Linked DNA regions of Homo sapiens: all the other regions are linked to region 1. The links come from fine-mapping of genetic effects on gene expression. Tissue or cell type: whole blood. Region 1 holds a variant in brackets; each other region holds the start of a gene. All regions are shown on one strand. Distances are from middle to middle.

Region 1 (8,157 bases):
TCTTTGCCATACTGATTTCATTTCCTTGGGATATATACCCAGCAGTGGCATTGTTGGATTTAGCTTTGTTATTATAAAATATTACACATTACAGAACAATACATAAACCATAAATATACAATATTTATGTACATATTTTTGATGAATATAATTTATTAATTTTAATGAAGTCCAGTTTATCAATCTTTTTAGTTAATGTTCTCTATGTCCTATGTCATGAGACTATTCTCTTCTGTTACCATTGAGAAGCTTTGTTGTTTGACCTTTCACATTTAAGACTACGAACCATCTGGAATTTATGTGTATGTGCTTTGAGATAGTGGTCAAGATTCATATTTTTCCATAAGGTTGTCCAATTAACCAGCACCATTTACTGAAAATACAATCCTTTCCTTCACTACATTGTGGTCATACTATTGTCATAAATCAAGTATAGATCATAAATGTATATGTGGATTGTTGACTCTATTCATTTGAACTATTCATCTCTCCTCACACTAAAACAATATTGTCTTAATTAGTACCTTTAAAATGAGTTTTTATGGCCAGTGGTATAAATCCTTCACCTTTGTTCTTCAAAAGTGTTCCAGCTATTCTTGACCTTTTCAATTTTGTCACGTTCTTCCAAAAAACCTGTTTGGATTTTGATTGGGATTGTGTTAAATCTGTAAATCAGTTTGAAGAGGGTTTCACATTTTCACAGTATTGAGGCTTCCAATCCGTTAACATGGCATATGTCTTTTGTTTTAGATCTTCTTTGTTCCCTTTGCCTTAGCTGTTCAGTTGCACTATGATGTGTCCAAATTTTCTTTTCATTTTTCCTCCTTGGGATTTATTTGGCTTCTTAAATCTGAGAATTTCTATATTTCATAAGTTCTGCAAAATTTTCAGCCATTATGTCCTCACCTGTTTCTTTTGTCCTATTCTCCCTGTGTTGCCCAGGCTGGTCTCTAACTCCTGGGCTCAAGTGATCCTCCCACCTCCGCCTCTCAAAGTGCTAGGATTACAGGCACGAGCCACCACACCTGGCCTATAGTAGATTTTGATTGCTTTGTTTTACAGTATTGATTTTACTCAAATGTTGAGAAGCTCTAGATATTTGTTCATCTTTTAATTGTGCATTCTTTTTTATTTATTTATTTATTTATTTTTGAGACAGGATCTCACTCTGTCACCCAGACTAGAGTGCAGTGGTATGATCATGGCTCACTGCAGCCTCGGACCTCCCAGTCTCAAGCAATCCTCCTGCCTCAGCCTTCCAAAGGGTGAAGCTCTTTGGAATCCCAGACTAAAATAGTGGGAGGTTTATGTAGGCTCAACACCTGGATGAGCATTACATGTTGGCTTTTGTTCCACTTGCCATGCAAAAAAACCCAAAACTTGGTTTTCAAGTGGTTTCTTCTATGTTAGTAAGTGTTTTCAAGGCAGAGGAATTTTAAGTGCTAGCCTTACCGCTCTGGATTCTTCATTCTCCTAGAATTAGGCCTAGCAATCACCTATTATCCTTTATTTTTTATTTTTATTTTTTTAGATTCAAGCACATGTGCAGGTTTATTACAAGGGTATATTGCATAATGCTGAGATTTGGGCTGCTAATGATCCCGTCACCCAAGTAGTGAACATAATACCCAATAGGTAGTTTTCCAACCCTTCCCCACTTCTTCCCTCCATCTTTTTGGAGTCCCAGTGTCTATTGTTCCCATCTTTGTGTCCATGTATACCTAATATTTAGCTCCTACTTATAAATGAGAATATGCAGTATTTCATTTTCTGCTTCTGCATTAATCCACTTAGGATAATGGCCTCTAGGTGCACCCATGTTGCTAGAAAGGATATGATTTCATTCTTTTTTATGGCTGCATAATGTTCCATGGTGTATTATTACCACATTTTCTTTATCCAATCCACTGTTCATGGGCACCTGGGTTGATTCCATGTCTTTGCTATTCTGAATAGTGCAGCAATAAACATGAGCACAGGTATCCTTTCGGTAGATTAATTTATTTTCCTTTGGGTATATACTCAGTAATGGGATTGCTGGGTTGAATAGTAATTCTATTTTTGTTTTTTGAATAATTCTTTGTTATCTTGTGAGTTCTTCAACACTTCTACAAATATTTTTTCATGTAGCTATTTTAGTTGTCCTCAGATAGAAGGTTGTTTTGAACTATTCAGCCCATTGTTTCCGCTAAACTTGACTTTCTTACCTCGTTTGAAGCAATTTAATAAGCAAAAAATTCTGATCTCATGTAGAACACTGGTGGGTACTATTTTTTGTCCTCAAATAGAAATATTTCACAAGAAGCAAGCATAATATCAACTCAAAAATGTTTTGAGGAAGAGCTTCTGAGGATGTTACATTTTCTATAGTTTATATTCTGGAAAAGGACATACTAACGTTGCTCAGCAGTCACAGTTTATTCATCCCATTTTGCATTTCAATATGGATTATTACTCTATGGTTTTGCAGCAGGGTTTACTATTTTTCTATACTTAAAAAAATTTATAGTAGAGGTCTCAAAATATACAGTTGTATGTTTGCTATAGAATTAAATCACTCGGCATTTATGGCATATTCACGGTGGGCTAAGCAATATCCCAGGTGCTCTCCGAGTTGCCACCTGATGCAGATGGCCTCAGAGGAGCAGTGAAGCCAGTCCTCTCATTCACCTCCTTTGTTTTTCTCTAGCTGGTTGAAACACTGCATGCTGCTCGTATGGAATACAAAGACCTACGAGAGAAAATGAAAACTCTTGCCAGACAATATAAGATTGTTTTAAGTGAGGAAGAAAAAGCTTTTTTGCAAAAACAAAAGATTCATGATGAGTATGTCTTTACCCACACGTGTGATTCAACATGCCATCATTATGGGGTGCTTTTCTTGCTATCAAAGTGGTGGCTCTCCACTTAAACTTATCCTAGTTTTAAAATCTATTGACAAAAATGAAAACATTTGCTATCATTACTGGTTTCTGTCTCAGCAGCTCAGGCTGCCATAACAAAATACCATAGACTGGCTGCTTAAGCAACAGAAATTGATTTTCTCACGGTTCTGGAGGCTGGAAGTCTGAGTGAGGGCCCTTTTCTAGCTTACAGCCACCCAGCCGCTTTCTCTCTGTGTCTTCACAGGGTGGAGAGAGAACATGCTGTCTGTCTGGTGTCTTTCTTTTATAAGGTCCCACCCTCATGTCCTCATCCAAACCTAATCACTTCCCCAAAGGCCCCATCTTTATAATATGCTCGAGCATTATCACGACACTAATGCCCCACAATGTTCCTTTCTGCCATTCTAAAGCACTTTAAATTTTAATTTTTTCTCATGAAAAAAGCAATGCCTGTACTTGATTTTTAAATTCAAATATAGAAATGTATAGCTTAGAGAGTAAAAATTACCCAAATCTCTCTATTTCTTCATCATGTTGGGGGTTAGCATTTCAACAGATAAATTCTGGAGATGGGGGAGGCACAATTCAGTCCACAGCAGTTTGGAAGATGAGTCACTTAGATAAAATACTTTCTGATACAGGCAGCTTCCTATCAATAGCTGGGCATTTGAACAAGACTATAAACTTCTCTGAGCCTCATTATTTTCTCCTGCAATTTGAGACAAAAAAATAACTACTTGAAACCCCATCTCTACTAAAAATACAAAAAATTAGCTGGGCATGGTGGCGGGTGCTTGTAATCCCAGCTACTCTGAAAGCTGAGGCAGGAGAATCGCTTCAACCCAGGAGGCGGAGGTTACAGTAAGCTAAGATCATACCATTGCACTCTGGCCTGGG[C/T]GACAAGAGCCAGACTCCGTCTCAAAACAAAACAAACAAAAAAAACCCTTATCAATCCACACGCTGAGAGGAGCACTTTACATCTTATTAAATTCATTCATCCGTTGAGCTAGGCATTGTAATTCTCATTTTATAGCTGGTGAAACTGAAGCTTATTCACAGGTGAAGCTAATTGTTAGCTTAAGATCACACTCTTATTAAAAGGTAGAGCCAATATGCAAAATTAATCTGACTGACTCCTTCACCTTCCATGGAAGAACATGACAGAATTGATAAGCACGTTAGGAGAGACACACCCACTCAGAGACATGGAGCACTACACAACTGTTCTTGTTGTTTTGTGGTTACTATTGTGGTGAATATTCTTTCAGTGGCTTGGGAATTTTCATAAATTTTATGAAAATCCTATGTGTATGCTGGGCACAGTGGCTCACGCCTGTAATCCAGCACTTTGGGAGGCCAACATGGACCAATCGCATAAGACCAGGCATTTGATACCAGCCTGGGCAACACAGGGAAACCCCATCTCTACAAAAGTACAAAAATCAGCTGGGAAAAAATTTGAAAAAAAGAAAATCCTTTGCATAAATTTAGATCTAGCTACCACTAGCAAAAAGACTTGCTTTCTATTTTTTAATAATTTATGTAGCAAATAGCTCATGATCTGAACTTTCAAAACTATTTTTGAAATTCTTATTTGTGTTTGCATATTTATGTCAGCCTTCAACAAATAACTCTGTTTTTCATGATAGAAATCAGAAACAGCTGACATTTATTTCTCAGAAAGAATACTTTCTGTCACAAAAGAGAGTAGACATCAAAAATATGGAAGAAGGACTCATCACACTCCAGGAACTTCAACAGTATGTTTGTTGCCTTTGAAATTTTTTATCTTTACTTTCTCTGCATTTATTTTTTAATAAATGATAGCAGTAAATCTATGTTGATTTCTAACATACTACAGAAAAGGAAGTTTAGAACTAGCTCTCTCTGTTTCACAGTCTGGAAGTCACTCTCATGGACTTTTTCATTGAAAGGATAAACAGGTTCTGAATTCTATGGGAGCTCCTGGGCCCCAGGAATGGACCAGTTGGGGTGCAGTGACAAGAATGTGCCTGAACATTATCACAACACTGAGTCCCATTGATGTTCATTTCTGCATTCTAAGTCATTTTAATTTTAATTTTTTTCTGATTAAAAAATAATACCTGTACATGATTTTAAAATTCATATATAAAATGCATAACTTAGAGAATAAAAGTTACCCTAAAATCTCCATCTCTCCACAGGCATAATCACTGTTAACAGTTTACAATATATGCTTTCAAATATATATTTATATGTATGTATCCAAAAATTGGATTATACTCTACTATAACTGAATTTGTTCCACTTAAAATTATACCTAGGAGGATGATAAAACAAATAAGGTAAAATGTTAACAGTTGGAGAATTTGGTGAAGGATATATGGGAATTCTTTGTACTATTTTTTTATGCTTACCTGTTGAGTTTAAAACTATTTCAAAACAAAGAGAATATATATATATTCTCAATATATCTCAATCTTTTCTCTAACTGCATAGTATTCTATGCAGATTATAGTATAATACACATTATACTATACTGTATTTAACCAGCACTCTATTGATGGAGATTTACTTTTGTCTGTTGCCTATATTACAAATATTTGAAGTTAACATATCTCTCTCTACCCATATGACTTTTTTTTTGTAATAAAGTCCTAAAAGTTGAAGTGCTGGATCAAAGGAGGATGCATATTTTTCACTTTTATAATGATTGTCAAAATGACCTATGTAAATATTCTACCATTGTACACATTAAGACTGAGCATAAGGAGCTTATAGTTCAGTTGGGCAGAGAAGCAAGACTAACACATATGAAATAATTAATGAACCACATATGATGGTGAAAAATAAACCATGTATGACAGTGAATTATATAAAACAGTCGGGCATGAAAGTGAAATCAAGGAGTCCTTCGTTATATAGGATTTAAAATTTGAACTAGACCTTTAAAAGCAAGTCAGATTTTTCTGTGCTCATTGTATGGGAGAATGATATCACCACACAAAGGGAGACACATGATTTAAATATAGGACAATCAAGAAGCCAGCTTATAGAACTAAGGTAGGGGGTGATGAAAATTCAAGCACATACCAACAGATATCTGGAATGTGACAGGAAGCATAGGTTCCTTGCTTGAATGGTTGTCCCCATATTGTTAAATAATATATTCAAACATCTGTTTCCAATTATGTCAGCTTCATAAGGAAAACTACGAACTACTAATAAAAGAGGAGGAAGATCGATTTGGACTGAATCAGGTTTTATGTTCCTCATGAATAATGCAAATTTTATAGTCAGTTACTGTGCATAATTGCTCTGGTCACCAGGAATCTCAAAGCCAAATTTGTGGCCCAATGTTATTATCCATTTAGGATTTTTTTATATTATTGTTGCTTTATTTTAAACTGGTTCAAGTTCTTTATGGATTACATTAAATATGTAAATAAACAAAATCAGTAAGGTTGGGGTGAATTGTGAAGACCCTTAGAGATCCAGAGGAGGATATTAGATTTATTTTGGTAGGAAATTGAGAGTCCATACTACAGTTTCAAACAGACAAAGAAACACGAGAACAGGTATGTTTCTAGTTTATTTAAGAGTGTTTCCTATTCTAAGTTTCATTTGTGAATATTTCTTTCAAAAGATATAAAGCAGCATTTTACTTATGTGGCTTTCAATTCATTTCTGTCCAAGAATCACTTAATAGGGAAAAGGCGGGGCTGGGGATAAAAATAAAGGCTTCTGTTACCTATGTTGGAATCTTCACATTTCCATCCATCCTACCACAAGAAAATCTTCTATCCTTAGTTAGTACTTTTCCCCAGTTCAAGAAACTATATTGGCTTTCTGAATTGTATATTATATCAAATCAGAGCTCAATCTAGGGTCTGGAGTTCCTCAACAATGTGTTGACCTTACTTCCTCTTGTGTCATAGGGTTATTCTTTCCTTCATGTCCTCTGTATACAGCAAGCCTAACTTAAGTCATAGCAGAGGCCTGACTTGCTGTTCCTTCCCTCTGTATTTGCAAATGATGACACCCTTTCCTTGGTAAGATTGCACCTCCATTCTGGCAATCCACATTCCTCCCTCTGAGAAACATTAACCTCTAGTAACCCTTCATCAGTTGCCTCCCCAGAAATCTCTTCTCTATCCTTGGCTATTCACCACAACCGTTGCAGAATCAGTTTGCACTAACATAGAATTGCAATTGTCTATCAGTCTGCCACTGAAATGTTTAGTTGTTTCACAAGGCTTATTTTGTCTCCCAATTAGACTATAGCCTTACTGAGCATACAAATTATGCGTATAGAGTCTATTGTATATTCTAACAGCTCCCATAAATGCAAAATCCAATATGTTTTTCTTTTTAGAGCAACAAAAACAGTGTATCAGCAACAAATCAAAATCCTGAGTGCTAACCTGGAAAGAGAAAGTCAGAGATGGTAAAAAAAAAAAAAAAAAAAAAAAAGTTTATTTGTGTTTTGTGTTATCAGCAGTATATGTTATCTTAATGAACAGTGCAGAGTACTTGTTGTTACTAGAACCCAAGGGAATGATTTTCCTAAATTATGTGTAAATTCTCTCGGATCTAGATGTATTGGTTAATTTGATTTTTTTTTTTTTGGCATTGAACAGAATCAAAGTTTTCCATTTCAATCAAGTGCGGTCACCAAAGAGTAAAATTGCTAATATTTGTGCAATGCCTTTTGCTCATCCAGGCCTCTTTGTGAACCAGTAGGGGAGGTGACAGGTATGGTAAGAGAGGAAGGTGGCGTGAAGGCTACTGGCTCTGCAGATGGCCTGCTTTGGTTGCTGTCCTTATTAGCTCTGTGACCAAGGCTAAGTTATTTAATCACTTCTCTTTGCTCCCATCCCTATAAAGTGGGGAAGGATAACAGTATCTACCTTATAAAGTAGCTGTGAATGTAAATGAGATGATACATGTAAAATACTGTATTTAGATCAGTGCAGCTAAAAAGCTCTTGCTTATACTTAGCTGTATTTTATTATCGTTGTTGTTATTGTTAGTATTATTATTATTATTTTGAGACAGAGTCTTGCTCTGTCGCCCAAGATGGAGTGCAGTGGTGCCATCTCGGCACACTGCAACCTCTGCCTCCCAGGTTCAAGCGATTCTCATGCCTCAGCCACCAGATTAGCTAGGACTACCGGCACGCACTACCACTCCCAGTTAATTTTGTTTGTTTGTTTGTTTTTGAGACGGACTCTCACTCCATTGCCCAGGCTGAAGTGCAGTGGAGTGATCTCGGCTCACCACAACCTCC
Region 2 (8,157 bases), 330 kb before region 1:
CCCAGAATAGCAAAAGCCACCCTGAGCAAAAAGAACAAAACTGGAAGAATCACATTACCTACTTCGAATTGTACTACAGAGCTATAGTAACCAAAACCATGCCAGCATGGTACTGGCATAAAAAAAAATAGACCAATGGAACAGAGTAGAGAAGCCAGAAACAAATCCATTAATCTGCAGTGAATTCATTTTTGAAAAAGGTGCCAAGAACACACACTGGGGAAAGGACAGTCTCTTTAATAAAAATAGTTCTGGGACAACATTACATTCATATGCAAAAGAATGAAACTAGACCCCTAACTCTTGTTGTATACAAAAATCAAATCAAAATAGATGAAAGACTTATACTGAAGACCTCAAGCTAGGAAACCATTAAAAGAAAACACTGGGGGCCAAATAGATGTGGTGGCTCATACCTGTAATCCCAGCACTTTGGGAGGCGGAGATGGGCGGATCACTTGAGGTCAGGAGTTCAAGACCAGCCTGGCCAACATAGTGAAACCTCGTCTCTACTAAAAACACAAAAATTAGCCAGGCATGGTGGCAGGCACCTGTAATCCCAGCTACTCGAGAGGCAGAGGTAAGAGATTTGCTTGAGCCTGGGAGGTGGAGGTTGCAGTGAGCCAAGATCACGCCACTGCACTCCACCCTGGGTGACAGACCAAGACTCAGTCTCAAACAAACAAACAAACAAAAACAAGAAAACATTGAAACATTGGGGAAAGTCTCAAGGATATTGGTCTGGGCAAAGATTTCTAGAGTAATACCCCATAAGCACAGGCAACCAAAGCAAAAATGGACAAATGGGATCACATCAAGTTAAAAATCTTCTGCACAGCAAAAGAAACAACTAAGTGAAGAGACAACCCACAGAATAAGAGAAAAAAATTGCAAATTATCCATCTGACAAGGGATTAATAACCATAATATATAACGAGCTCAAATAGCTCTATTAAGAAAAAATATAATGATCCAATTAAAAATGGGCAAAATATCTAAATAGACATTACTCAAAAGAAGACATACAAATAAATAGCAAACAGACATATGAAAAGGTGCTCAATATCATTGATCATTAGAGAAATGCAAATCAGAACTACAATGAGATGTCATCTGACTCCAATTAAAAAAACTAGAGCTACCATATGATCCAGCAATCCCAGTTTTTTATATATTATGGTTATTAATCCCTTGTCAGATGGATAATTTGCAATTTTATTCTCTTATTCTGTGGGTTGTCTCTTCACTTAGTTGTTTCTTTTGCTGTGCAGAAGATTTTTAACTTGATGTGATCCCATTTGTCCATTTTTGCTTTGGTTGCCTGTGCTTATGGGGCATTACTCTAGAAATGCTTGCCCAAACCAATATCCTGGAGAGTTTCCCCAGTGTTTCAATGTTTTCTTGTTTTTGTTTGTTTGTTGGGTATATACCCAAAAGAAAGCAAAAGTATATTGAAGAGATATCTGCACTCCAACGTTTATCACAGCACTATATTATTCACACTAGCCAAAATTTGGAAGCAACCCATGTGTTCATCAAGAGACAAATGGATAAAGAAAATGTGGTACATATACACAATGGACTATTATTCAGTCATAAAAAAGAATGAGATCCTGTCATTTGCACAACATGGATGGAACTGGAGGACATCTGTTAAGTGATATAAGCCAAGCACAGAAAGACAAACTTCTTATGTTCTCACTTATGTGTGGTAAATTAAAATTAAAACAGTTGAATTCATGGAGATAGAGAGTAGAACGGTTTCCCAGAGGCCAAGAAGTGTAGTGCTGGGAGGCTGGCAGGGGCCTGAGGGGCATGGAGGTGGGACAGTTAATGGTAGATATAAAAATATAGTTAGATACGAGTGAATAAGATCTAGTATTCACTGGCACAATGGGGCACCTACAGTCAACAATAATTTATTTTATATTTCAAAACAACAAAAAGATTATAATCGGATTGTTTGTAACACAAAGAAAGGATAAAAGCTTGAGGTGATGGATACCTTATTTACCATGATATGATTATTATTCATTGTATGCCTGTATTAAAATATCTCATATACCCCATAAATATATACACCTACTATGTACCCACCCACAAAAATTTTAAAAAAAATCTCCAGGTTACAGTTGAGGAACCTGGGTTGTAGAGATGTTAGGTAACTTTAATATTGAGGCTGGAAAGAATTTCATCTTGGTTAAAGCTTGTTACTTGTGGCGCTCTTCCTGCATGTCCCCACACCGTGTTTCCCCATGATATATGGTTTGGACTAAGTTAAGAAGCTAGTGCTAAATAAATGCTCCTCATTTCTTCTTTTCAAATGATGAACAAAACTTCTTTTCCAAAAAACAAAAGCTGAAAACAAAACGTGACAGTTCTTTTGTCTCAACTCTTCTTGCTAAGAACCTTTTAAAAGTGACAATCCTATTTTCTCTGTGTCTGAAAAGCATTTTAGAGTAATTCGTAACTTAGAGCAACTATGTAAGCCCCAGAATCCCATTGCCGACTGTGTGTTTTGCCCATAAATCTTCAAATTAGTCAAGCTTTGTCAGTTCAGAGCGGTGCAAAATAAATAATATTAATAAACATGAATCATTTCAAGTCATAGCATAAACCTGAAAATTTCTTCCCCCAAATAGATAATTTTTATACATCCAAAGGTGGAGTCTAATAAGGAAAGTTAGTAATGAAAATTGCTAACACTGAAATCTTGTGCTCATCTCTTTTCAGCAGTGTAAAATAGAATACTTTATCAAAATGGAACTGTCAATAATGTTCAATTTCCTTTAACAACTACACTCTAAATAGATTTAACTGGCTATTTCCTTCACACATTCTCAATGAGAGTATTGATTAGTATGAAAGAAATTGACAAATAATTAGAATCATATCCCCAAACTTCCTATCTATTAATCATAAGGAAACACAGAGGCTTGCTTAGGTCTCCCAGTTTTTTAATGATGACTTTCATTCATGTTTCTCAGAGAAACAAAAGAATATACTTCATATTATTTTGTATGTAACTCCTTTGCATAGCAATTCTCAAATATTAGTATTCATCAATAACCACTTTAAGGTTATATCATTAGAATTGTCTATGTTCTTGTCTTGTTATCAGTAATAAAACCATGAGAAATTCCCATCTAGTATTTCTGATGCTTTAGGGAATACTAAGTAATAGATTTGAAAAAACTTACAAGTGCCCTCTAATTACAAGACAGGATTAAGCTCCATGGAAATACAGCAGTGGAATAAGCTTTTCAACTTAACGGTTTTTTAAATACACTCTTGTTTTCCCATGGAAAGATGTTTAAAAATCATTATGATTCATGATAACCAATTATTTTGTTGTTTTTGGATGAGATTATTTTTATAGATTTATTGAGTTATAACTGACAACACATTAAATTGTTCATATTTACAGTAAACAATAAGTTTTGACATATGTTTGCACCTGTGAAGCTATAACCACAATCTAGATAGTGAATATTTCCATCATGAGACATAATTTTGAGTATGTCAAAAATGTAAAATTTTGGTGACCATCAGATTTCCAGGGATATCTGGCTTCAGGAGGCCATATTTATTGTTTAGTGAATGATTTTTCTCTAATTTATTGTCATCTTTTGAACATTAGTGCACTAGCAGAACAAAAGATTAGGCAGACTCTGGGCTTTTTCATTTTAGCATTATTGAGGAGCACCTGAATGGTCCTGAAGTTGGCCTTTGAATATACCAATGGACAGGTATGAAATCCTCAAGATGCGCATGGTGGCCAAGAGTCCCACAGTCTCACAGTGTGTGCGGTACCGTCTGCGCCCACCTTTCCTAGAGAAGAAACAGCAGAAAAACCTATTCCTTCACCCTGTGTGTTGTGGTGAATCTTAGTTTTTAAAGGCACATTATTTTATTATATAAACAACTTGGGAACCAATAAAACACAAGACATTTGAAAAGATGGGTCTTCGTATGGGCACAACATATGATAAGGCAAGTCACTTTCCTCCTCTGAGTTTGGGTTTATTTGCTGACTATCTTCCATTTTATCACAGTGAACTGTAAAGAAAAAGATGCAAGCTTCATGGAATGTCCAAATTCTGAAATACAACGGACTGCACAGACAGCTTATGATTAGGATGGCCTTGGCTCAGTGTTTCTGAAAGCAAATGTACAGCTTTTGTCCTTGCCTATTGACACCCTGTTTGCCCTCAGGGCTGGTCAGGGTGAGATCTGTTAAGCTTTTTTTGGAGGCTGTCCTGATAACTCATTTCTTTACTCCACTATTTTCAGGCCCATTCTGGAAACGCAGGATTTAACCGCGGGGTTGCAGCTTCCCTGGTCTCCATCTGCCATCAGAACCCATCTCCACCCCTTCCCCGTTCAGACCTGTGTCCCCTCCACAACTCATACTGGTCACTCTCAGAACTGTGGCCCTGAGTTCTCTAGCTTTCCCTCTTTGCCTCGGGACCCAGGACACCAGTCGGGGCTTAACTTTCTCAGTTGGGAAGGCGACGCTGCTGGTGGCTGCTGCTACTTGCTGGTTCTTCCTTTTTTTTCCTCCCCAAACGAGAGGAAGATTCGAGTGGATTTGGCACATCCCCTAACCGGGGCCTGCCATTTGCAGGTTGGGGGCTGACGTGCCCAGGAGGACCCGGACCAAGCAGGCCATTTTCACCTGCGTAATAACAGGATTGGGAATAGCGAAGCAGCGGCGGCAGCAGCGAGTGGAGTAGGAGGAGGAGCGCAGGCAGCGGCCGCGGCGGGGCCGGAGGAAGAGGAGGGGGGAGAAGGAGGAGCTGAAGCGGGAAGAGCGGCAGGCAGCGGCTCGGCGGAGTTGCAGCAGAGGCGGCGGCGACGCTGAGACACCGCAGCTTCCCTGAGCGCCGAGTCCCTCCGGGGACAGCAGCAGGGAGCGCCCGCGCAGCCACCGAGCCTCTGCCCAGCCAAGCCGCCGTCGCCGCGCCGGGGGACCGCCAGCCATGGCCGCGCCGGGGGATCCGCAGGACGAGCTGCTGCCGCTGGCCGGCCCCGGGTCCCAGTGGCTCAGGCACCGGGGGGAGGGGGAGAACGAAGCGGTGACGCCGAAAGGGGCCACGCCGGCGCCGCAGGCTGGGGAGCCCAGCCCGGGGTTGGGCGCCAGGGCCCGGGAAGCGGCGTCGCGGGAAGCCGGCTCGGGCCCCGCCCGGCAGTCGCCCGTTGCCATGGAAACTGCATCCACAGGTAAGGCGGGCGCCGCTGCCCCTCAAATGGCGTCGGGGACCAGGGCCCCCCAGTCAGTCCCCTTCTGCGCGGCTCTCCTGGGCACCTGCCTCGCGCTTTCTGCCTTGAGCGCCGACCCCACCCCCGCGTCGCCACGGGCGACTGGGAATATTCGCGGGCTGGTAGAAAACAACAATTTTATTTTTCCCAAAGGCTCAGAAAAAGTCAAGATGCTTTTGATCCTTTTATTTCATTATCATGATTATTTCCGCTTTAAAAATTGTTCTCATAGGCAAACAGCAGCATTCTGGCTGCTGGCGAGTCTGGGTACAAGTTTCTCCCTCCTGCCAGGAGGCTCCGAGCTGTAGGGCCCGTTTGACAGGTTGTGGGGATTTTGGGGGGCGTGTTTGCGCGCAGTGTGCGCGCCGGCTACAGGAGATGCTGACAACCGAGCGGCGGGCAGGCCCGCGGCCCCTGGACCCGGCTCTGTCCAGGGCAGAGATGTGGCTGTAACTGCCCCTTACCCTTGCCCTCCACGAATCGCCACCACACCTTACTCCCCCCACATCCCTCCGCCTTTTCTCCCGCAGAAAACAAATCCCAGGGAGTTTGTCCCTAATTCGGGAGGCACAGCTTTGCAAGAGGGTTGGGTGCTGTGGCTGCCCCCGCCCAAAACCTGTATTTCGCCGCTGCCCGGATGGCCCCACCTTGCAGGGAGCATTGAAACTTCAAGTCCTAAGTGCGGCGGGCCTGGCTGTGGGTTGGAGGGCTTGGGTGGTGGTGAGTGGACGTGGTACAGTTTACCAGCAGTCTAAGCGCCCCCCCCCCCCCACCCCGGAAATTGCCCTGGGTTTGGCCATTCTTCGCCTGACGCCCTATTCAAAGTCTGAGCGCGCCAGTGTCCAGCGGGAGCCCAGGCCCCTGGCGCATCCTGGTCAAAGGATCCAGGAAGCGCGCTTTGAGGCTGCCGGCCTGGTTAACGCTGTTTCCAGGGAGAGGAAAGGGGATGCTGTGTGGTGCTCTTTCCTGAGAAAGCTTTGCTATGGTGGAGTGGGAGTTGTGTAGTTTTGGCAATGTAGAGCTAGAAGGCCTGGGGTGGGGGGTGCTCCCAGAGGAGGGGAAGGGGAGTGGGACTGGTGTGTGTGCTCTTGGTGGTTGATTTAAAGAAACCCCTTTTCGTAAGCTTCTCTTAAGGGTTATGTGGAATGTCTAAGGTAATCGTAATTAACTGCCCTGGTACAGAAGATCTGAGCTGGGGAAAAGAGGTTTGGAGAATGCGTTGAATAAAAATTGTCAATATCCTGAAAGGAAGAGAAAAAGTGGAGACCCTATATAAGAAAAAAGAAAAAGAAAGAAAGAAAAGTACTCAAAAGCCCCAACGCCAAACGCCAAAGGTTATATATTAATTATTATATCCCTAGGAGTGGGGGAGGATTTAAATCTAAGAATGGCTGCTCAGTCTCTCTTTCAACTTCTGCATCCAAGTGAAAACAAAACTCTTTATAATTGCAAAAGAAGATGGCAAATGATAATAGACAAAGGAAGGTAGTTTTTGTCTTTACCATTCTTTGTTGAGGATAGACTGCTCATAGTTCAGAATCTTTATCCACTGTAATCAAAGTAAATTGTTTCTTTATGAAACATTACCCACCTCCTATTAGTGCCACTAAGATTATGTGAACTAGAAAAAGGAAGCTAAGTGCCCCATGCTCAGTAACATATCCACAAAAGTTATTATATAGGAAATGCTTAGAATATATATTTGTGGGGTACAGTGTGATGTTTTGACATATGTCTGCATTGTCAAATGATTAGCTAACAAATCCATCATCTCATGTACTTTTTTTTTGTGGTAAAAGCGTTTAAAATTTACTCTTTTAGCAATTTCAAAATGTACAGTGCATTGTTACAGAAAGGTGGCTGTAGTAAATAACAATGCATTTTGCATTTTTAGTATTATTATTATAGAAATACCTTGCTTTATTGAATGTGTTTGGGGTTTTCTATCCTAGGCAACAAATATAGTAATAAAATCAAACATGATACTACGTTTGGATGGGAGAAGAATGAAGAAAGATGGAAGGAGCACATATTTTGCATATTTATATAGAAATTTTTTAGTTTATGATTGTGGCTAGAAGGAATTTCTGATATAGTTGTTGATTGGTTAATGTCTTAAATCTCTGTGTTTCTTATTAAGTAGACCGGATGTGCTGCTATAAGAGACTCAAACGCCAGAAATGCTGTATAAATAAATAACTAGATCTTAAAATTCCAAACAAATCTTGTCCAGCTTCCTGGTCTGTTATTTTGGCAGTTCTATTGCTATAAGCAAAGTTAGCAGGTGAGCCCTCAATTGTATCAGAGATGCCTATTAAGCACACTACTTTACACTGTATTTCTTAATTTACTTTTTTTTGGCTTATAAACAGAAATTTATTTTCTCACAGTGCTAGAAGCTGAGAAATCTAAGATCAAGGTAGATTTGGTGTCTGGTCAGGGTCTGCTTCCTGGTCCACACACAGCTGTCTTTTCACTGTGTCCCCACATGGCAGAAGAGTGCTTTATTTTTTTAAAAGAGTGGTGCTTTTTTGGGACTCAACTCAAACTAAGAAGTAACTTAGACTTTGAGTGTGATGCACTGTAAACAGATTTTGTTTCTTTTTTAGATGGAAATATAAGACAGATATTGATGTTTTAATAACTGTTTTTCTGAAAAACATCACCAATCATGCCATCTGGACAGATATTCTGTTATTTATTTTTATACATTGATGGTAATTAAAATTATCCCAGGAACATTTCCAAAAATATGTCTCAGCAGTGTCCTGGAATGAATATAAGTTTAAACATTATTAAAACTGCACCATAAAACTCCATCAATCCTCTATTTTCAGGTGTTCTCATTGCTTCTGTCCCTTTTGTGGCGTGGAAATAGTCTCATCAAAATAACAC
Region 3 (8,157 bases), 33 kb before region 1:
GATGATGAAATGATAACATGCACAAAGCAGTGAAACAGGCAACCACTTTCTATATGTGAGATGTTTGACCCAACTACCAAGAATGGAACCTTGCCTTGATCTAACTCAGGGTCTAGGCCCAAGGAGTTTAGACTTTGCCTAGAGATACTAGATTTATGCAAAGATGCTGTAAAAGCAATGTTATCATCAAATACGATATAGACCTCACATACAGAGACTGCAAACCTGCCAGAACATATGATCGTATTCATTCCTGTGCAAGTTAGGGGCCAAACTCCAAGGATCAGTTGGGTTCTTTCCCTGGCTCTAACAGCAGCAAGGGCTAAACAGAAACAAACTTGCTTTATGATAACTAAAAATCTATGTCAGCACCAGACTGGAGGATTCTCAATGTCATACTGGCTGTTCAGCAAAAGTCCTCTTTAAAATACTGCCTGAAAGATAAATGTATCTGTTTGTGTTACCAAAGTAAAAATACATGAGAAAAGGACATGCATTTTGGCCAAGTGCACACCAGCTGTAAGTAGTGAAGGCTGAGAAATCTTTTTTTATGTGTCCATTATTTCTAAAGTTTCCTATGGCTGCTGTTACAAATTACCACAAACTTAGTGGCTTAAAACAATACAAATTTATTGTTTTAAGTAAAGCAAATTTAAAAGTAAAACAATACTTAAATGTATTGTTTTACCATTTTGGAGGTCAGAAGTTCAAAATGAGTCTTTCTTAGTGAAAATCAAGATGTCAGCAAGGCTGAATTCTCTCTGGAGGGTCTAAGGGAGAATCTGTTTCCTTGCCTTTTCTAGTTTCCAGAGACCACCTGCATTCCTTGGTTCATGGTCCCCTTCCTCCATCTTCAAAACTAGCGGCTTAGCATCTTCAAATCTTTCTCTGACTTTGATATTGACTCTCCTGCCTCCACCTTTCAGTTATAAGAACTCTTGTGGCCAGGCGCAGTGGTTCATGCCTGTAATCCCAGCACTTTGGGAGGCCAAGGCAGACGGATCACCTAAGGTCAGGAGTTCAAGACCAGCCTGGGAAACACAGGGAAACCCCATCTCTACTAAAAATACAAAAATTAGCTGGGCGTGGTGGCGGGTGCCTGTAATCCTAGCTACTCAGGAGGCTGAGGCAGGAGAATCACTTGAACCCAGGAGGCGGAGGTTGCAGGGAGCCAAGATGGCGCCACTGCACTCCAGCCTGGGTGACAAGAGTGAGACTCCGTCTCAAAAAAAAAACAAAAAACAACAACAAAAAAAACAACTCTTGTGATTACATTGGGCCCACCTGGACAATCTAGGCTACTTTCCTCATCTCGGAGTTTACTGATTAACAATCTTAGTTTCCTCTACAACCTTAATTACCCCTTACCAGGTAACCTAATATATTCACAAGTCTCAGGGATTAGGATGTGGACATTTTGAGGAGGCATTATTTTACCTATTACATCTATAATTTCACTAACCAGGAATAACTACAGGTAACATTTTAGTGAACAATTCTTCTCAGACCATTTTCTATGCATATGTTTATAGAGATATACCTATATACATCTCTATAGATATATGGACTTGTAAAAATTAAATATTAATTGAATACTGTACATTTCTTTTTCAACTTGCTTTTCCCACTTTATACATATGTATGTGTATGTACATGTAAATTTCTACCCATTATTCTTAATAGGTACCCTATTATTACTTTATCATTAGTGTTTTTTAAGTATCTACCATGTGCTCACTTAATTTAATCCTTTGAACAATCCTATGAACTGAGAACTCCTATCACCGTCACCACCCCTTTAGAGCTGAGACACTGGCAGCATGAGCTGGGAGGCTGTCTCAGGAGATACTCCATCCAATCAGTAGTGGAACGCATTTAAATCCACCAGAACCCAAGCTCTTAACCACATGGCGGATTGCCTTCTAGATTGTTCCACTGCATGGATGTCCCATAAATTACTTAACAACAGTGTCCTACTGTAGATCATTTGGGCTATTTTTCAGTATTTAAAACAGGACTGCAATAAACAAGTTCATACCTATGCCCATGGACAAACCTGTGATTATTTCTTTAAGAACAATTCTTAGAAGAATTACTGTATGTCAAGGCTCCTTACACAAATTTCCAAATTGTCCTTCAGATAGTATGCATATTCCCAGTGTCAATACTTTGAAGTATTATTCTTTTTAATCTTAATATTATGAGAAAATGAGAGTATTATTTTTCTTTGAATGCTAATGAGGGTAAATGTTCTTTCCGTATGTTTCTCGGAATTTTTTTTCTTTTATTAAGTGATGATTCATGTTGTTTGCCTAGATTTCTATTTCAGAATTTATAAAGTTTCCTTTGAAAAATTGTGGTTGAATTTTGTACAGGGCATCCCATATAAAAGGAACCATGAGACAAGTTAGAAGCTGATCATCTCTCACAAAATATTTAATTTATAAAAATTAAATATTAATTGAATACTGTACGTTTCTTTTTCAACTTGCTTTTCCCACTTTATACATATGTATGTGTATGTACATGTAACTTTCTCACAAAGTTCAGGGAAAAAGAAAGTATTAGAGACATGAAGGGAAATAGAGAAATGTAAGAAAATCTGTAACAAATCCAGTAAGTGGGGAGGACACAAAATGCCCCCTTAAGATTAGCCTTTATTCATAGATAATGGAGAGCAATGTGATCCAAATGATGCGATATGTAAGAAGAGTCTTCTGGTGACAGCTTAAGGGTTGCCTTGAAGTAGTCCAGTCTAGATATTTCCAGAAGAGAGAAGTATATCACAAGGAATTTGTTACAAGGGGTATAGAAGCCAAAGGGTAAGAAGATAAAGAAGACCCCAGACATCAGAGCTGCCATAACACCTGTACTGTACGCACAAGCTCACATATAGTGCTGAGCAGCTGGAGACTGCTGGAGTCACTTGGCTCCTACTCCTGCCACTTCTAGAGCCACCAAAACTGCTGGGACCTACAGTCAACTGTAGCCTGAAACTACCACTTCTGGAGGCAGAAATGCATGATTTCTCGGCCTTCTAATCTCCCTCAAGTGTTTCCCATTAGTGGAACTTACCAAGAAAACAGGTGGCAAGGACATCCAGGAAATTTCATATCCAGTCTTCTTACTCCTGCCACACAGAGGAGGGCCCAGAAGGGCAGGAACAGATTTGAATACCAATAGACCAAATCCAGCAAAAAAGGAGGATGTTGTCCAGGATGGTTTCCAACACCAAAATATGGCACTCCCTGGATGAAGGAGGCCTGGATTCTAGAACTAGTTCTGCTACTGGTATGCTGTGTCCCCTCCAAGGCAGTGTTGCACAGTGGTTTAGGATGTAGCTCAGTGCCCTCACTTGCAAAGCAGGCAATAATACCTAGCTCAAAAGATTATTTGTGAGGGTTAAATGGGGTACTGCAAAGTATTTAAAACAGTGCCTGGAACAAAATAAGCATTTAACAATTGATAGCTATTGTCATTGTTACTATCATTCTAATTTCAATTTTGCCATCTGTAGAGAAAAGAAGAGGAGGGTTGAATCACCTTTGCTTCTCTCTAACCCACCAGAGGAAAAGGAACTGACAGACTCAACCTAAGCCTCATGCTAAGCTGAATTTTGGAGATGCAGAGAAAAATGAATAATATCCTCCTGTCCCCGTCATCACAGAGCTCACAGTTCGATGGGAAGACAGAGAAAAATCACTATGATTCAAGGCAAAATGTGCTCAGTGATGTACTAGATACAAGGAAAGTTCTAAATTAGTACAAAAGAAGGTTTTGTAGCATAGTAGAAAGAGTCATACAGACTTCACTTTATTATTTTATTTTATTATTTTGAGATGGAGTTTAGCTCTTGTCGCCCAGGCTGGAGTGCAATGGCGAGATCTCGGTTCACTATAACCTTTTCCTCCCGGGTTCAAGCGATTGTCCTGCCTCAGCCTCCTGAGTAGCTGGGACTACAGGCACGCGCCACCACGCCCGGCTAATTTTTGTATTTTTAGTAGAGATGGGGTTTCACCATGTTGATTAGGCTGGTTTTGAATTCATGACCACAGGTGATCCTCCCGCCTTGGCCTCCCAAAGTGCTGGGACTACAGGCGTGAGCCACCTCGCCCGGCCCAGACGTCACTTTAAATCCAATATTATCCTCTTGTGGTCTTGAGCCGTTCATTTAGTCGCCCGCGCCTCAGTTTACGTGTCTGTAAAAGTGGAGGTACTAAAAGAGCCTGCTCACAAAGTCCTTGTGAAGATTAAGTGAGCTACTGTATATAAAGGTTCTCCTGCAGTATCCGGCACAAAGATGCGCTCAAAAGTGATCATTATTATGATTCCAGTGGCCCACAAAAAAGATACAGGCCTGAACTAACGCAATGGAAATTGAAAGGGGAAAAATTAGCTAAAGAGAGAGTCATTCTTCCCAGACTGCTTAATTATCGTGGATAAAATTAGAGAACCAGGAGGGTACCTACTAGAGGTGCGGGCCACGAGGGGGCGCCCCACGACCTCGGTGTCCTCGTTGCCCGTGGCAACCGGCAATCCTTGGCTCTGGCTTAGGAGGCGCTCAAGTAGAGCGGCAAAATGGCCCTGAGCCCCTGGACCCCAGGGCTGGGCGCTGGCGAGAAGCTGGTGCAGGCGGCTGCCGTCTCCACTGGCCCCTCCCTGGAGTTATGCACCTTACCCTCCACCCTGGGCTCCTCGGTCGCGGTCGAGGCGCTGGAGCAGCTGTTTGTTGTGGGTAAGACGCCCCTCGGGCGCTGGAAGGGACGTCTCCTCAGAGGTGGCGCTTAGGAGGCACTCAGCGGGAACCCTGAGCGGGGACTCTCCTCCCGGAACCAGGGCATCACTGGGCAGGGCAGAGCCTTCTCCCCGCTCCTTGGAGGCTGGGGAGAGAGAGGTGGCGGGTGGGACCAAGTGCCCAGATCTCCTGCCCTAGCGCAGCTGAGGTGACTTCGCTCAACCCTCAGTAGTAGTTAAATTACTGAGGTGACAAATCCGGGACTCCCAAGCCACTGCCCTATGCCTGCGACCTGATTACACACCTGCATTTAGATTATGCCTTCGATTTCAGTTCTCTTCTTGCCGTTCCTTTACAAGTTAACTTCCTCCGACATTTTGCCGTGGCAAACTGGAGAATTTAACAAGCAAATAGGAAAGGGAGTGTTTAAGAGGCTTCTGTTGTGTTGAGCAAGAAAAATTAGATGTAAAGGGTTGTTTAGGAGATTCTAATAGAAAATGACCTTGGATAGGGCCAGGTTAAAGTATTTTTCAGTTAGAAAGCTGAACCTGTAATCAAGTCACTTAAGCTTAAGGTAAGACAATCCAAGAAAGGGTGTTTCTTGTTCGGTGCAAAAACCGTTTAGGCCAAACAACAAAACATTTCAGTGCTTCACTAGAATCATCCCATTTCTTCAAGATAATCGTATTGATTTATGTTACAATGTTACTATTAATTTGGGATAGTTTTTATTTTCCTTCTTAAATGCGCTAGGTTAATTTCACAATTCTTAGCAAATATGCTTGGGTAAATGTTATCATGAAGAATGTTGGCCGGGCGCGGTGGCTCATGTCTGTAATCCCAGCACTTTGGGAGGCCGAGGCGGGTGGATACCTGAGGTCAGGAGTTTGAGACCAGCCTGGCCAACATGGTGAAACCCCGTCTCTACTAAAAATACAAAAATTAGCCGGGCGTGGTGACGCACGTCTGTAATCCCAGCTACTCGGGAGGCTGAGGCAGGAGAATCCGTTGAACTCAGAAGGCAGAGGTTGTGGTGAGCCGAGATGGTGCCACTGCACTCCAGCCTGCGCGACAGAGCGAGACTCCGTCTCAAAAAAAAAAAAAAAAAAAAAAGGAATGTTACCCACTGAGGAGACCTAAAGTTATTAAGACCTAAATTATTCACATGTATCTGAGGTCACTGTCAATGACAGACCTAGAACCTTGAACTCTTTTCATACTTGATCTCTAGATCGGCATGCCAATGCAACCCTAGTACTTATGTACAAATACATTTTTCTGTTAATGTCTAGACACTCAGAACATATTTCATAGGAAAAAAAAATCATTACACCCTCTTGCCCTGAGTTATAAAATATTAATATGTAAATCTCCAGCACATTTGTCCTCAAGGAGCATAAAATATATACCTAAATTATAACATTATGGAATAGGAAATAAGTACAAAAGAGATTAGTGTAATGTACAATAAAAATTCAGAGACTGAAGATGTAACTTCCAGCCGAGTAAGCATTTGAGCTAGATCATAAAAGGTTAAGTAGGATTTGGATAGATAAATAAGAGATCTTTATTTTCTAATTTTTTTTTCAGAACAATCACTGCAAAGTGACTATTTTAAATGTAATGAAGAAGCTAAGATCTTTCTTAAGGACATTGCTGTAGCTGTTAAGAAATTGGTATTGTATTATCTATAAGAACCATTTCTTCAATCTTCCACATATTTCTTCAAACTTTCATTTCGCACCAATTCTGTTCAAAGTATTAAGTAGATGACTAGGGAATATAGTTACCCTGAACTTAAAAATATTTTTCTCTCAATTTTGTAAGGATTTGCACAATTATTGATCAACTGTGGATTGTTACTTGATTTTCCATGAAGAAAACTAAATTATGGGCTTATGGCTGTGGATGAGGGCAAGCTCATTTAGAGAAAGCAATGTGGGTGATAATACGGTTCAGTTAAGAGGTGGACCACATGGGCAAATGCTTGGGACACCAATATATAAGCATTGCTTAAAACAAACAAACACACAATCTCTGGAATAAATTGCAAGCATGGTGCTAATTAACTCAGTTCTCTGTAAGCAATTCCTTGCATAACTGGTCAAAGATTATTTGACATATGTTCCACTGAAGTAGACGGTACTGTTAGTGAAAACAAAGAGAAACTCTTTCAATTACACTTAACTGGCCCCTATCAAAGACATGTTGAAGAAATATTTAAAGAATTTCCTTCTGAGGTGTCACAGACATCTCTGTTCGGCCAAGGATCACATTGACAATGCTTCCTTGGCACAGTCAGAGTAGTGAAGGCTCTCCATTTTATTTAAAAATATTGGATAAGAATTTACTACATATCAAATTGCTAAAAATGTTGAAATATGGCTGTAAATGAGTTTGAATCCACAGACTGCTGATAAAACTCTTACTACTTTATATTTTATATAATTATACACATATATATATCTATACTACATAATCATACTTTACAATCCTACTTGAGTAGGTACACGTAAACACTGAGGGATCATGTGTGTTGTGCAGCTCTGTGGTGCTGTGAAAACATTTTTCCCTGCTTGGTTCTTTCTTTCAGTTATGTCTTTCGCTAGGATTTTAAGAGGCCAAAATATTTATTGTGGTTAAAGTATCTAGTCTGTATTCATTTAATATCTGAGCCGTGAAATCTCTTAAACAACAGAGATCAGGCTGGGTATGGTGGCTCACGCCTGTAATCCCAGCACTCCGGGAGGCCAGGATGGGTGGATCACTTGAGGTCAGGAGTCTGAGACTAGCCTGGCCGAGACATGGTGAAACTCCATCTCTACTAAAAATACAAAAATTAGCCTGGCAAGGTGGCGGGAGCCTGTAATCCTAGCTACTTGGGAGGCTTGTAGGAGAATTGCTTGAAACCAGGAGGCAGAGGTTACAGTGAGCTGAGATTGACCCACTGCACTCCAGACTGGTCAACAGAGTGAGATTCCATCTCAAAAAAAAAAAAAACAAAAAAACAAAAAACCAGATCAATCCTTTTATTTTTAAAAGTAATACATGTTGACTTTGAAAAATTAAGAAAAAATAGATAAGCAAAAGGACCACATTAAAATAATCACTATTAATGCTGATGAATATACTTTCTATTTTCAGGGTATAGGTGATAACTGCATTGAATTTCATTTTTTACAGAAAAGTGATGATGCTATATATGTAATTATATAGTCTGCTTTTTATAATTCATAAAATATAATGGCAGTTTCTCAGGTCATAAAATAGCTATAGCTATTATGACAGTTTATTTAAAAGATGATTTATCTATTTTTTCCCACCAACTGATTTCTTAGCAGTGTTTCCTTTCTTAAAGTAGCCTCAGCTAAAAGTAATAATAACAGCTTTACCTACTTGTTTGGGTTTGTAGGTGTGTATGA

Evidence for each region. PIP is the estimated chance that this variant, and not a neighbour inherited with it, causes the effect.
Region 2: RTN1 starts here. The variant in region 1 is fine-mapped to the expression of RTN1 in whole blood (INTERVAL, PIP above 0.99).
Region 3: it holds the start of CCDC175, and the variant in region 1 is fine-mapped to the expression of CCDC175 in whole blood (INTERVAL, PIP 0.94).

Annotation. Positions count from the first base shown.
Region 1 is chr14:59,539,832-59,547,988 of GRCh38, reverse strand. It overlaps CCDC175 (coiled-coil domain containing 175), which reads left to right. Exons shown (of 20, transcript NM_001164399.2): 9 at 2,690-2,826; 10 at 4,535-4,645; 11 at 7,243-7,314. Among named protein-coding and RNA genes, the nearest start is that of CCDC175, 33 kb to the left of the region's middle. The variant C/T (reference allele first, on the strand shown) is at 3,783.
Region 2 is chr14:59,867,456-59,875,612 of GRCh38, reverse strand. RTN1 (reticulon 1) reads left to right here and starts at 4,837. Exons shown (of 9, transcript NM_021136.3): 1 at 4,837-5,223. The coding sequence starts at 4,983. RefSeq lists a silencer at 4,829-4,928.
Region 3 is chr14:59,573,197-59,581,353 of GRCh38, reverse strand. CCDC175 (coiled-coil domain containing 175) reads left to right here and starts at 4,542. Exons shown (of 20, transcript NM_001164399.2): 1 at 4,542-4,735; 2 at 6,326-6,411. The coding sequence starts at 4,579.